Linked DNA regions of Homo sapiens. The protein of the gene in region 1 purifies or fractionates together with the protein of each later gene. This does not show direct contact. Each region holds a gene or a part of one and is shown in the gene's direction. Other genes may lie near its edges.

Evidence for each region.
Region 2: the proteins of DLC1 (region 1) and LACC1 purify together in Homo sapiens (affinity purification with mass spectrometry; 2 studies listed by BioGRID and IntAct, with this or other methods). This does not show direct contact.

What each region holds. Positions count from the first base shown.
Region 1 is NC_000008.11:13,511,837-13,519,543, reverse strand, and holds the start of DLC1 (rho GTPase-activating protein 7), read left to right. Parts: upstream 1-4,692; 5' UTR 4,693-4,942; intron 4,943-7,707. UniProt on the Homo sapiens protein: Functions as a GTPase-activating protein for the small GTPases RHOA, RHOB, RHOC and CDC42, terminating their downstream signaling.
Region 2 is NC_000013.11:43,874,996-43,882,905, forward strand, and holds the start of LACC1 (purine nucleoside phosphorylase LACC1), read left to right. Parts: upstream 1-4,908; 5' UTR 4,909-5,124; exon of another isoform or gene 5,125-5,257; intron 5,258-5,956; 5' UTR 5,957-5,990; coding exon 5,991-6,552; intron 6,553-7,189; coding exon 7,190-7,368; intron 7,369-7,910. UniProt on the Homo sapiens protein: Purine nucleoside enzyme that catalyzes the phosphorolysis of adenosine, guanosine and inosine nucleosides, yielding D-ribose 1-phosphate and the respective free bases, adenine, guanine and hypoxanthine.

The sequences.
Region 1 (7,707 bases):
ATTGATCAAAAAACTAATCATGCGCATGATGCTTATTGAATATAAACTACAAATTATATGGTTTTTCTTGGTCTGGATGTGTCTACAAAAGTGAACTTATTTAAAGAAAACACATGAGCCAGGAGCGGCAGCTCACACCTGTAATCCCAGCACTTTGGGAGGCCAAGGCGGGTGGATCACAGGGCCAGGAGCTCGAGACCATCCTGGCTAACACGGTGAAACCCCGTCTCTACTAAAAATACAAAAAAAATAGCTGGGCATGGTGGCGGGTGCCAGTAGTCCCAGCTACTTGGGAGGCTGAGGCAGGAGAATGGCGTGAACCTAGGAGGCGGAGCTTGCAGTGAGCCGAGATTGCGCCACTGCACTCCATCCTGGGCGACAGAGTGAGACTACATCTGGGGAGGGGGGAGGGATAGCATTAGGAGATATACCTAATGTAAATAACGAGTTGATGGGGGCAGCACACCAACATGGCACATGTATACATATGTAACAAACCTGCATGTTGTGCACATGTACCCTAGAACTTATAGTATAATAAAAAAAGTAAATAATAAAAAAATTCTTGATAATATATTTTTAAAAAAAGAAAACACATGTAAAGCTTACTGAAAAAATAAATTAGAAAATCTGATAAATTCTACTTTTATTGTTTCCAATACAGTAACTTCAATAAATTACAAGCAAATTTTTAGAGATTTTTAGACGAATAATTTTCATGGACAAAGTGTTCTTAACATTTATTACACTAACTGTATGCATGTAGATATTTCAAAATACTTTCAAGGTATTTATTCTCTTTATATATTAATTTCAAGTTCATTGCTATTATAAACATATTCATTAACAAAAATGGAAAACATAAAAGCTGACTTCCACGCATAATATCACAAATGTCTAATGTGACTGAATTAATGATGTTGCTACTTATTTCATAAAAGAGTAAAACACTATTTTCAAAGGATAGATCTTGCTTTACATAAAATGTTCTTGAACTGCATGAGAGACACTGAATAATTCTGTACAGAAGTCCAGATTCAACTTTCCTGAAAATGATTGGGAAATGACTAGATAAATGATCATAGCTAATGTTTATTGTTTAGGTAAAAGTACCTAAGTAGAAAAGAGATCTTTAGGCCAGGCACAGTGGCTCACGCCTCTAAACCCAGCACTTTGGGAGGCCGAGGCAGGCAGATCACTTGAGGTCAGGAGTTTAAGACCACCCTGGCCAACACGATGAAACCCTGTCTCTACTAAAAATACAGAAATTAGCCAAGTGTGGTGGAGTGCATCTGTAATCCCAGCTAGTCAGGAGATGGAGGCAGGAGATTTGCTTGAACCTAGGAGGCGGAGGTTGCCTTGAGCCGAGATCACCACCACTGCACTCCAGCCTGGGCAACAGAGCCAGACTCTGTCTCAAAAACAAAAACAAAAACAAAAAAAAGAAAGGTGATCTTTAAAATACCATTTAATCCACCTCCTGCTATTCTTCTTTCCACAGAGTACATAATTGTTCCACCACTATAACGGTTTCACATGTATACATTTAACTTGGAGTTCAATAGAAGAGAGAGAAAGATTCTAAAAATACCTGAAAGAGAGATGTAAACATTAAAAAAGGCAATAATTTAAGTGGTAAAAATAATTCTAGCTAATGGCTTTATATGGACTAGCTTTTTGCATTGTGACAATTCTTAGTTATGGAAGCTAAGACATCCTCACCCCGGTTAGGTAACTCACACAGGTCACAAAAGCTGTTAGTTTTGGAGCAGACTCCTATCCTGATACTTTGTTTTCAAGTTCTTAACTGTCCCTGTCCCCTTATTTGATTAGCTGATCCAGTACAGAGTAACAGTCAAACATTTAAGGAAGTTGGTATTTAGATTTGCAAGTAGAAAGAAGGGGACAAATATTTTGAACTCCTTCAGTGTTCCTGACACAATACTAAGTACTTAGGAAGTTTTCTCACTATTTATCTTTACACTCATATTTGGTAAAGCCTTTATAAGACTATAAGATCTGAGATTTGTTTGGAATCAAGCAACTCAACAATGAAAAATAAATATAAGTAATTAAAGATTTGGGAAGTAATCCTATTAATAGAAGAAAACATAATGTATTTTTTGTGTAGAAAAGGGTATGTTTATGAGAAACTTACTAACAAGAGTTTCTAGATATCTAAAAGGCATTTGTGAACAGAGTTTTCTTGTTTTCCCAAGCCAATAGAAATAGAAACAAAACTAAAGTATATGGCGCGGGGTACAGTATTCATGAATAAAATGTAGCTAAGAATTAGCATGATGCTGATATAATATTGAGTAACCACTGTATATCAGTACTAAAGGCAGTGACAGAGATAGAGATATCAAGTTATATTAGGAAAGACATAATATCAGTTCTCATTCCTTTCTTCTCCAGTGTTTTTCTTAGGGAAATAAACATAAATACACAAATATTTCTGCATATAAATTTCATCCTGCTTTCCAATCTATAAGTTATGTGAAATTGTCTCTATTTTTAAAGAGAAACTATTAGAGTTTAAGAAGTCTTCCCAATTTAATAAAGAAATTAAGTGGAAGTCAAGGAAGGCAGTTTATGGAGAAAAAATTAAAGCACAAAGCTTGGAGCTAGAATATCTGAGTTCCAGTGTGGACCTGGGCACTTTGTATCATTTGACTGTGAGAAAATTGCTTCTCAATACTTTATTTGTAAAATAAAACATATGAATACACGCAAAATTGTTGGAAAGATTAAATAGGCATACTGTCAGTAGAAACACTTTGAATATAAATATAAATACTTTTTAAAGAATTTATGGAAGAACAGACTTCTTTCTTGGCCTATGGTTGAAGATTAAATTAAAGAAACCTAAATGCTCATGTTTTTAGTCAATAAGACTTTGATCTAAACTTTTAAAGCTGCTTCTGACCAAACGTTTTTATTTGACTACTTCTCATCTTCAAACTCATGCACAGTATAAGTCATTCTTGCCATCTAACATGGGTCTAATATGGTTCATGATTTGCATTAACTTTGAGAGATTTTAGCTACCTAATAAGGAAAAAAATAGTAGTTAGAACCTTGTGCATCTTTGAGTTATCACCTACCCAATATTATCAAAAAGTACTACAAGATAGCCCTTGTGATATACAGGGATGGAGAATAACAGTGAACAATGAAAACTACTTACAATTTCAGAGAAGAACAGGATAGATCTTAGGGCCAACAAGTTTAAGATGTCTTTTACCTCTTTATATGTTACTCATTTTATCACATCCAACTGGAATTATTCTTGCACTTCCTATTATTGAAAGCTTCTAGAAATTTGCAAGAAGCAGATAGACCTAATAATTAATCTGATCATCAGTCCCCCCCCAAAAAAATGCTTGAGTCATAAATAGCAGCGAAATCCATTGATTGTAAATAAAGTAGAAGGGAGACATGACTGAGCCATTTCCACCAAGCAAGATAATTAAAGTCAGAGATGCTGTTTCCTGCTTCCCTGGTATAAACAATGAAGCTGCTCTACTGGCCTCTCCACAGCCTGGATGTCCCAAAACCACCTCCCTCTTCTTTCCTTCCACATTCTCTAAAGAGGATTCTGGGTCATAAAGGAAGGAAAATTGGTGTAACTTTTTTCCTGAAACGACTTCAGCTTCCTCTGTGTTTGTATTTGTGATATCTTATTATAAGACGAGCTAACATCTATTATTAATTGATGCACTAATTAAAGCCATACTTGCAGTTTCCATTAGCTTATTCCCTAAATTCTCCAGAGTTGCCTGTCTGGTTTTAATCAAAACCAAATGGTAGTCCAAATTCCCAACCTGGAGCAGCTAGGAGGAAGTCATTCAAGGGAGGCACAAGAAAGCAGAAAAGATAAACAGATGATAGTTCACAAAATTTGTGACGGACGAAGGATGCAGATACCATGAGCGGCTTTAGAGATGTGATTCAGGAACGCTGCCATGCTAGATGGAAGCAGTTGTAAGTGTTTAATGTCAGCAAGACTCTAATACGATCAAGATGGAGCCTGTCTTCTGCTCCAGCACTGGATTTTTGTAACTGGAGGATTCTGACTAGAGGTAATGCGCTGCTGCATTTGCCATAACACGAACTATTTTAATTCTGTGAAGGATTCTTGTGATCAGAGAGATCTGGAAGAAATCGTTCTATTAACTGGATGCTTGGGATTTTACTTACAGATGGTCTCAGGGACAGAATGAAAAGCTGCAGCATTTCCAATTTTAAGTCATGTTCAAAAAAGGTTTTGCCATTTAGAAGAATTATGGTATTAAGGCTAAATTCATCTTGCTCTCTTAAAAGATCTTTTGAAATGAGAGCAAGCACAGGCATTTTGATTAAGCTGTGCATATACATTTAATATAGTGGAAAGGTTGTGGATAGAGAGAAAACTACGTTTTCTTTCTTTCTTTCTTTCTTTTTTCATAAGCAGTGTGGGATAGAAAAAGCTCTAGGACTTTATGACTCTACAGCTAATCACCTCAAGAGCTTTGACAAAACTCACTTGAGTTCTGTGTAAAATCAGAACTCCTAAAACGCCCAGGCGGCTGGGCTCTCCCCTCCTCCCCTCTCTTCGTACAGCCTTTCTAGCATGCACACTCCTCAGAGGCAGGAAATACTTTCCAGGCAATCTGGGCCTGGTTGTGGAGGCCCCTTTTGCAAAACCTCAGTCTGAATTTAGTAGACAGAAGTCACTAGGAATGCCTTGACAGGATCCTGCCTTAGCTAAGGCTCCCTCCAGCTGCAGAGGGTGTTTTTGTTAGACTCACACACTGCGTGAAACTGCTCAGAATAGAGCCATGATCTCAACCACGAAATGGGAACTTAGATTTTGGAGAAACTAACGGGGACGGACTTCTTTCCTAGCCTGAGTGTTGAGCAGTGTCATGCCTTGGCGTTTCAGCTCCTCGTTGTCTAGGTAAGACGCTATGGACTATCTTTATGCTTTGAGGCGGTCTTTGAAGAGGCAGAAAGATTGAGATAAATGTTAGCATCTTGCACGGAGTTGGTGACTTCCTAGGTTTTAGAGCAAAGCCATAAAATCAGAAGTGGAAAATGTTTGATAAGTAGAAAATTCTGAGTCAATTCGTTTTAGCAAACTGTCAGTTCTAAAACAGGCTCCATATAGATTTAACTCTTTTCCTCCATAAAGTAAGATTTTATTTTTATCCCTTTTTACGTTTAACTTATTTATTAATTGAGCTGTCGGATCAGTTTTCCTATTTCTTGGCATAACGTGAAACAAATACATTTTCTCACACATCAGTGTGAGGTGTAAATGAATTCCTCCCCTACCTTCCTTTGCCAACAGGGAGAGTAGAAAGCACCCGAGTGACTTGTGCTTAATAATCAGTCTCCAAAGAGTATTTTGTGTCTCATTTAAAACTACGAAGATTGAATTTCTTATTATTTTACCCAAGCCAGTTTCAATCATATGTCAAGCTTCTCCTGTACAGCTTAAAAGGTTCATTTAAAAAAAAAAAGTAAACACGTGAAATTTCAGGAATTATTTCTGTCCTAAATAGTATTTAATCTGAGTTTTGGAAATTTAAATGTCGGAATCGAATTTAGTTTATATTAATTTTCCTGGATTCACTGCTTGCTCCGGTCACATTTTGTGTAATATTTTGAATAACTGAAGTCAATCTCAATGACACTGACACTCATTATAACTCTTTTAAGGCAGCCAGAAATCACTCCAGTCATATGGAAACTGTTTGTGTCCTTACTTATGTAATCGTAAAATTACATTTCCACCTGACTGTAGTCTCTTCAAGGTAATCTTAAATGTTTAAATGTACAATATATTAGAAAAGAAGTTTAGTAATGACCGAAAAAGTGTGGACTTATAATGCATAAGATACTGTTATATTTCTGAATATTTATAATAAAATTCATCATTTTATAGAAATAAAATGGTACATAAAGGGAAGAAATATTCATGTACATTTTCAAATCTATTAGATGAATACAAAATATACTAAGTGAAAGATGGAGAGCTATTTTGACAGTTGGATCATAAGAAATGAAGTAACTGTTTTCATTATAAGTTTTTATATAGTACAAGGTGACCATCTGCTATATTAGCTATTCTCAAATTTTATGCTAGAATAACTTATATTGATAAATTTTAACTATTCACTGACAATTTGTGTTAAAACTTCTTAAATATGAGAAAAAGAATCTACTTTTTATATATGTGGAAGATAAAATACTGACTTATCTAAATTATGATTTAATTAAAATCTCCAAATGGAATTTCAGAGAAGGAAAGAACATAAGAGATGGTCTCCTCTAACAATGGCTTGAGGTTGTCTACAAGAAGCTGAGAAATGGGATTTAAAAGTGACCTGTCCAAGGTCACACCTCTAGCTAATAGAAGAGAGGACAGCAGAACCACAGTGCCCTGATTCATAATTCAGATACCTTTTTATCCCATCATCCTGCCCTCCCATAATAATTATGCATAATGAAGTATGAACATGTCCAGTAGAAGGGTGCTTTGCAGACAGAAATTTGCAGTTCCTCTAATTTAAAAAAAAAAAAAAAAAAAGGTAAAACTGTCACCAATGTTAATTATGTGGGGAAAAAAATCCTAACTTTAAAAAAAAATCAAATCAGTATGCCTTCAATAAACACTTTACAGTAGTAACTTGCTTTATGACTATTTTATTATATTTGATGTTTATGTCAAGAAAATCAATCCATATGCTAATAATTATATTAATTTTAATCTGATGTTTCTTTAAAAATAGGGCTAGAAAACAGCTTTTCTAATTTATATCCTTGTACTCAAATGATCATAATGAAACTGTCCCAACCAATGACTTTCAGAGGCAATTTTACAGCACCACCCCCAGGCATCCTTTCTTCTATCTAGCCTAAATCATTGTTGCTGTAGCTTATTTCAAGTTCTATGTGGGTCTTTTCACTAAATATATAAAAAGCCTAAGTTGACATATAAAAAATATGTTTACATTTCTCCAGCATGTTTGCAATCCCTTAATTGATTTGTATGTCTGCTCTAAGCCTTCTACAAAGTCATTTAATTGTAGAATGCAGAATTTTTACAGTATATAAATAAATGTCTGAACAACGTGGTATAAAATGGGAGCGTGGGCTATTTCATCTGCATCATACTTCATATATGACAATATTTGTTGCTGTGTGTGCTGAAGCAGTATACCTTCTCAGACAAGACCCTTTCTCATAAATGTAACACATTCCATTTCTAATAGCTGCCATTTCCTTAGAGAGAATGTGTCACGATACTTTTTTTTTCCATTTTCATGACCAGATTGAGTTTCCTGATGTTATTACTACTTAAAAGAGACACTATTCAACACTTCCTTTCAATGTCACCACACTCTACATTATTGGAATGAGAAATAAGTGCAGTAAAGTGGTGGCCCTTATAGCTGACTGCCTGATTCCTAGAAGGCCTAGTAAAAGATAGCACATCACTTCATTTTCTTCATAAGGACATTATAATTTAAAAAAAAGAATTTTTTCTCTCTCTGTCTATACCTACCCATACCATATAACTCACTACAAATACTTATGGGATGGTTTAATCTTATTCATAGAGTTTTAGATCTTACAGGCTTAAAATAGGTCAAAAATTGATCATTTGAAATTTGTCTTTTGTTTGTTTTTTGTTTCCTCTTGAAAAATGAGTGATGT
Region 2 (7,910 bases), on another chromosome or scaffold:
CATTCATACATTATCCACACTGCTTCTAGGTTTCTACCAAAGGAGGGGCTTTGCTGAATGTATAGACAGTACTGGACTACCAAAACATCTCTTGTTTTGGAGTGTAGACATTAAGGGGTTGGTCTGCAGCTCAAATCCAAGCTTTAAAGGATGTCCAGGCAACTGTTTCGAAAAGATTTCTACCTCTGGGACAGAAGTTATATAGACCTTTGGTGAAATCCAGTTATAACCTACCTGCTTGTCTCATTCAGAGAGGCAAGGGGCAAGGTCTTTTATTTCCTCCCCCTCTAAACAAGTAAACATGATTTCCAAACCAAGAGGAACTTTATAGTGGGTTAAATAGTGCCCTCCCGCACATCCAAAGATATATCCACGTCCTAACTCCCAGAACATGTAAATGTGACCTTATTTTGAAAAAGGAGTTTTGCAGATTTAACTGGGTTAAAGATCTTGAGATGAGATCATCCTGGATTTAGGGTAGGTGACTGAATATGCAAATGGACAATGGCCAGACCATATGTAAAAACAGAACTCTGACCCACAACCTGCAGCAAGCAACCCAGGAGACTAACCCATTATCTACAGTAACCAGTCCAGGAAGTCTATAAATTAGACTTGTAGAAAGTTAAATCATTATCTCTAATAACAATCCTAGGAGACAAACTATAACAATTGTCCCAAATGACCAGTACTGGATTAATAACTGGCATCTTCCCTAACTTTTGTCCCCATTTCCAAGTTGAGACTAACAAAAAGAAGCCATAGAATGCTCCACTTCTAGTTAGCCTGCCTGCAGCTTCCTCATGCTGAGAGCCTCTAATCAGGGCATGCCCACTCCTCTGCCTGCCTTCAACTTTGCTAAAATGCAGGAGATTGTGGCTCCCTCCCTTACAAGGCCTGAATAAATAGCTTTTGCTTGTTCTCATTTGATTGATCTTCATTTATTTCTACACAAGAATCCTTATAAGAGAAAGGTAGAGGGCTACTTGAGACTCAGACCCACATGGAATAAGACCATTTGACGATGGAGGCATGGAGCTTGAAGTCACTTAGCCCCTAGGCAAAGAACACCTGAAGTCACCAGACAACAGAAGAGGTAAGTGAACCACCAAAATGTGCAAGGTGCTGTCAACACCTCAGTTTCATCATCTGGCCTCCGTAACTGTGAGAGAACAAGTTTTTGTTGTTTTTAGTCACCCAGTTAGTGCCAATTTGTTATGCTAGCCCTAGGAAACTAACAGAAGCTTTTAGCAAGGAAATTTGCATCTGCTACATGGCTTTTTCTGGAAAGATCCATAAACCTTAGTGTAAATGGCTTAAAAACAACTGTTTTGTTCTTTAAAATTATACTTGTTCTCATGAGAAGATTTACATAGCATTATAAAAATGTCTGGTGAGTTCTTCAATAGTTCCCTTAATAGCCAGGCACTATCTCTGCCCTCAAAACACTCTAGGCAGAAAGACACACAGTCAATTAAAATGGAGAGGCGCAGCAGCTTATGTCTAAGCCTATCTACACATAACCTCTAACCACTTAACTCACTCTATTACCTTTGTAAGTCATAAGTGACTAATTCCCATATCATGCTAGGAAACTGTTAACTAGTAAATCTGCCTATTTCTGCTCCTATCAATTGACTAGTTCAATCTTATGACTTACTTGTGTTTGTTTGCAAACCTGTTTTTGCCAGTTGTGCTTGATATTGTGCTTTCGTAACTTAATATTGTATAAACCAATGAAATAGTGTGGAAATTGTTGTTTCTTTAAAAATCTATGTTTAATATTTTGGAAAGACCCAACAAAAGTATGTGAGATTAACTGTAAAAGATTATAAAATATAGCGGTGGCTCATGCCTGTAATCCCAGCACTTTGGGAGGCTGAGGCAGGCAGATCAAGAGAGGTCAGGAGTTCGAGACCATCCTGGCCAACATGGTGAAACCCCGTCTCTACTAAAAATACAAAAATTAGCCGGGCGTGGTGGTGCACGCCTGTAATCCTAGCTACTTGGGAGGCTAAGGCAGGAGAATCACTTGAACCCTGTGGAGGCTGCAGTGAGCCGAGATCGCACCACTGTACTACAGCCTGGCGACAGAGCGAGACTTCATCTCAAAAAAGAAAAAAATTACAAAGTATAAATCTGCCCTCAGATTGCTTCACAGGTGCCTTTAAGTTATTTTCCCCTTAAAAGAACAAAATCTTGGGAAATCTTAGCTGATGGTTTATGGGTACGGTTTATGCAAGAGATAGTATGCAGAATTCCAATCAGTAGACTACATGCAAAGAAAAGGTCTTGGATCTTCTCAATAGATGGGCAAATGAACACACAGTTGTTTTAGGTTAGAATACAGTTTAAGGTATTTGTTATATTTTTTCATGATTCTGTGGTTTAACTGACCTTTTTTCTTATAAAAAAAGCCTTTTTTAGATATAATTTACATACCACAAAGTACATCCTTATAAAGTGTACAATTCAATATTTAACCATTTTTTCCACTTATTTCTTGGCTAGGGGCCCAGACTACATCTATGAGAGGGCTTCTTCATATGAACAAAATGTAAAGAAGCTATTAATTTTGCTTGATGAGGGATGGGGATTCAGGGAAGATTATGTTTGAGCTTGAAGAGCCTTGAACAAAAAGTAGCAGTTAGGCATATAAAAAGGAGGGTATTTTGCTAAGTAGAGGAACTGCAAATGTAAAGAATGAAATCATGTGGCCTCCAAAGAACAGCTTTTATTTGAGTGGCTTGGGAATAGGGTGTTTTTATTTTTTCAAACTTAATTATGCATCTAACTCATACATAGAGGTTAAAACAAAACAAAAAAGCAAAGCAAAACATGCTCAGGCCTAACTCCTAGAGATTCTGATTCAATGTATATTTGGGATAGAGTCTCTACATTAATTATTTTTTTTTTCAGTTGCACTTGCAGTTCTGATTTGCAGCCAAGACTGAGAACCACTGGAGTAGGATAGAGTGAAAATGGGATGAGGAAGTGTTAGGACATGACACTAGGACCAGATGGTGAAAGGAAATGGTATGCAAATACAATATAACAAACTCTCTTCCCTGACAACTTCATTCTTTTGAAATATTTTCTTTTTCATTTTTTTTTTACTGCCACTACTTTTGCATGAAAGAATACGAATCCCACCATTGTAAAAACAGAGATAAATGTTTAAAACCTTTGTAACTAAAAGACCTCTGTTTTGCTTGAGGTATTAAGCTGGTGCAAAAGTAATTGTGGTCTTTGTCAATGGCAAAAACCGCAATTACCTTTGCACCAATCTAATGATATTTAACATAAACAAACTCAGGGCAGAGTGCACCTTCTGATTGGGTGTACCATCTACCGCTCGGGGCTCTTTAACAAATGACCAAAGAAAACATGAATTTTGACATAACTGGTGCTAGGGTTATTGAAGGGTGGGTTTCCATTCTGGGTTAGTGCTCCCAGTCTCTAGTCAAGCACAAGAACATGCCTACCCCAGAGGGCTCTTCCAAATTCCCAGCTATCTGAGATTATGAGACAAAGGTTCTTTAGCGCCTACCAAATGAGCAACAATGAAGATAAAAGGGACCTCTCCTTCCATCATAACCAGTTCCCCAGGAAGCACCATTTCTCTTACTCTTGGAAGGTCGGATATTTTTTCCCTTTACCATACACTGGCCTTCCATGTCCTAACTGCTATTTTCAAATAAATGAACGTTATATTCTTGGAGGACAGATCAGGGATGCTAAACTGCACCTTTATCATGATTTTAGGGATGAGCGCCTTTTACTTAAGTCCTGCTAGTGGCACATATTTTAAAAGGCCATAGAGGACATCCGTGTTGTCAACACAAGTGAAGGCGCTCGGAAGAGTGTTGGTCAGCAAGAATCAGCACAAAGACATTGGAGGAGAGACAACAGCTTGTTTCTGGAAACAAATGAACAACAAAAAAACACTAAAACATCTCGAGGGGGCCCCTGACTTGAGCCCTGCATGGGAAAAGCTGCCAAGAGCTAGCATGACAAGGGACTGGCCCTGGGCTGCGGTGAGGAAACCCAGCGTCCTGACCACACTGCTGGGTCAGCGAGGCGTCCCTCAGAGACCGGAAACGCGGACTTCAGCTCGCTTGGGAAACGGCTTCCATTAGCAGAAGGGAGACTGCGGTTTAGTCCCGAGGTCGCTCCAGCAGCCCGGCCTCACGCGACCCACCATTCCCGCCGCCCCCTCACGGTGCCCGCCGTTCCCGCCGCCCGGCTTTCTAACCGGGCCCCTAGTTCCCCGCCCCGTGCCCTCTGGAGACCTGCAGCTCCTGCCGCCCTGCGCCCGCTCCCAGGGCCCGTCGTTCCGCCGCCCTATCCCTCCTCAAGGGGCCCCTAGCTGCCTCCTCGCGACCCTTTCCGGACTCGGCCTGCCCACTCCTGCCCGCTAACCCGCCTGGCTCCCGGGCGAGAGCCCTCGCGCGGCTCTGGTTCCTGTTCCTCTAACGCCGCCGGGGCTGCGGGATGCCGACTCCGCGGACCGCCCAGACCCGGAACTGCTGAGGCAGCAGCGGGCTCGCGGCGCTTGGCTCATCCCGGGATTCCCCAGCTCTCGCGCTGGGCCCGCCGCGTTCGCACCAAGCACGCCAGGCGGCCCTGGCCTACCTCCCTCCCGCCTCCCGGCAGCTGGCACGAGGGAACCTGGCCGTCAGGTTTCCCCTGGGATCCTGGGACGGTATCAGGCGGGGAATCTGTGCGGCCGCGGCGAGGTAGGTGAGGTGAGGCGGGGCGAGGTGGGCGAGGGGGGCGAGGTGAGGCGGGGCGAGGCGGGGCGAGGCGAGGCGGGGCGAGGTGGGCGAGGTGGGCGAGGTGAGGCGGGGCGGGTGTCGTCGCGCTGGGCCGAGCTTACGACTCCAGCTGACCCGCTCGCGGCTGCCCAATTTCGTTGAGGCTCAGGACGAGGGACGGGGCGGCAAATTGTCACAGAGGTCGCCGTAGACCGGTGTGCAACCGAAGGTGAAGAGCGGGAAGGCGAGGACCGAATCGCCTCTGGTGTGCGTTGTCCGACAGGAAGTCCCGAATGGGCTGTGAGCCGCCGGTGGAGGTGCCCGGGCAGGTGCAGAGCCACAGCCTGCGCCCCGTGAGCCGAGGCGGGTAGGAGGAACAGGGACCTGGCGGCGACACACGTTGGGCGGAAATTCACAATGAACAGGGAAGGGGGGACGGTCACCCACTCAAAACTGGCTAAATGAACCTCAGAGGGAGCCCCGAGAGATGGGGAGCAAAGGTTAGGGGAAGCGGCAGGAGAAAACCTTCTTGGGGCAAAGGGCGTCACCAAAGGGGGTCACCGGAGCCCCGCAGGTTGGGGTGGGAGGGCTGGGCTGGAGGTGAGCAAAGCTGCACGGGGAGAATGAATTAAGAAAGTTGAGAGGAAGCCTGTCTCATCCAAATCACTATAGCTTTTGTGGTCATTGCTAAGTGTGGAGTACTGCGCAAATCCTGAAGGGAACTCTATTAGCCATCTCAGCTTTTATCATCTTAAAACGCGAATTTCGCGTGCAGCTCCATTTAGCTTCGTAAACTTAAGCCCCCGCATATGAAAGGATGAGACCTAATATGACAATCATGTCAGGACTAATGATATATCACACAGGTTGACACTCTGCAATTTAAAAACAGGACTTTGTCTAAACTCCACAAGTAATTCCTTACTCAAAAGTTCTGTGTAAACAAAACAGAGGAACTGTCGTGCTGCTGGAAAGATGTACCAGCATTTTCACAAAACGAATTAAAAGATGGCTTTGCTTTCACTGTCATGGTTCTGTTGTGACAGAGTAGACTGGCTTTTCTGGGAGGGGCCTAGATTTACTATTTTAGTTACATTTTAAAATCAGTGTAATTACTTCGTTTTTAATCTACCACAAATTTCTGTTGTAACTATAAGATTTATATAATCTTATATTCTTACACTAATTTTTATTTGCAGGTGATTTATTTGGCATAAAAGTATTCTTTCAAGGATGGCAGAAGCTGTTTTGATTGATCTTTTTGGTTTGAAATTGAACTCTCAAAAAAACTGCCATCAGACATTACTGAAGACTTTGAATGCTGTCCAATACCACCATGCTGCCAAGGCCAAGTTTCTCTGTATAATGTGTTGCAGTAACATCAGCTATGAAAGGGATGGAGAACAAGATAATTGTGAAATAGAAACAAGCAATGGATTATCAGCTCTCTTGGAAGAATTTGAGATTGTTAGCTGTCCCAGCATGGCTGCCACTTTGTATACCATTAAACAGAAAATTGATGAAAAAAATCTGAGCAGCATTAAGGTAATTGTACCCAGGCACAGGAAGACATTAATGAAAGCTTTTATTGATCAACTCTTCACTGATGTTTACAATTTTGAATTTGAAGATTTGCAAGTGACTTTTAGGGGAGGGCTTTTTAAACAGTCCATTGAAATAAACGTAATCACAGCTCAAGAACTAAGAGGAATTCAGAATGAAATAGAAACATTTTTGAGAAGTCTGCCAGCACTGAGAGGAAAATTAACTATTATCACTTCTTCTTTGATCCCAGGTATATTAACCACTAACTGTTGTTTTTACTTTGTACATGGAAAACTAGTCTTTCTTCAGAGGTAGTTCACCTCTTTTTTTCCTCCTTTCTTTTGTTGACTGTTGTGGGCTGATTACTCATTAGCATCAGTGGCAACACAGAGGTGTCATGTTTGGCCCTGTAGTATCAGGGGTGTCAAGGGATAAAGCCTTCAAAGCCACCCCAAATAAATAAATTTGCTTTACAAAAATTTGATGATGAGACAAATAATCTAGCCCTCCTTTGCAATGAGATTTATGACACTGAAAATCTTCTATTTAGAAATTCTGAAATTTCAAATCATTGGCACCTTCATAGAAGAGTAAAATTTAAAACAATCAATCTTACTTCTTGGTTAAACAGTATTTTCTGTGAGCTATATGCTATTAGATATAACAAAGCCAGATGAGACACAATATACCTTTTGAAGAGCAACAATCTCATAGGGAGTGTAAAACAAACACAAAGCAGAATGCCATAAGAACATATGGAGGTACAAAATGCCATAGAAATTAGAAGCCAAATAACAAGGGCAGGTAGCAGTGATCAGGGAAGGTCTAATTGAGAGACTGGTATTTTGAATAGCATCTTTTAAATCTTCACTGCTTATCTTCAACAGATATTTTCATACATGGATTTACTACAAGAACAGGTGGGATATCTTATATACCAACTCTTAGCTCATTCAATCTCTTCAGTAGTTCCAAACGGAGAGATCCCAAGGTAGTGGTTCAAGAAAATCTGCGTAGGTTGGCGAATGCTGCAGGATTTAATGTGGAGAAATTTTACCGAATAAAGGTAAAATTTTGCTTTATATTTTGAAAGATCTAAAGTATATTTTTTACTTTGCTAGTAACTACATGGACTTTAAGCTATTTAACTTTTGTATCTGCTTTTTTATCTAAAGTTTTAGAATAATGCTGTGGTTGTCTTTCTTAGATTTATACACCATAGCCTAAAGATAAGTTCTATTTTATACACACACACACACACGTGCAGATATATATATATATATATATATGCACACACACATATAGTAAGTCATCCTTTAATGTTGATAGGTTCTTAGAAATTGTGACTTTAAGTGAAACGACATAATAAAACCAATTTTACCATAGGCTAATTGATATAAATAAGAATAAAGTTTCTAAGGCATATTTCTTGTCACAAAAACATCACCAAACTTCTAAATAAAGACCAACACATTCCTAGTATTAAACATTGAAATAAATGTGAGCTAGACATATATTTACAAAACAGTAAGAAAGACAAATAAGATAACTACCAAATTATTTCGGTTCAGGGCTTTAGGTAGCTGGAGTCTATTCTGGCAGATCAGG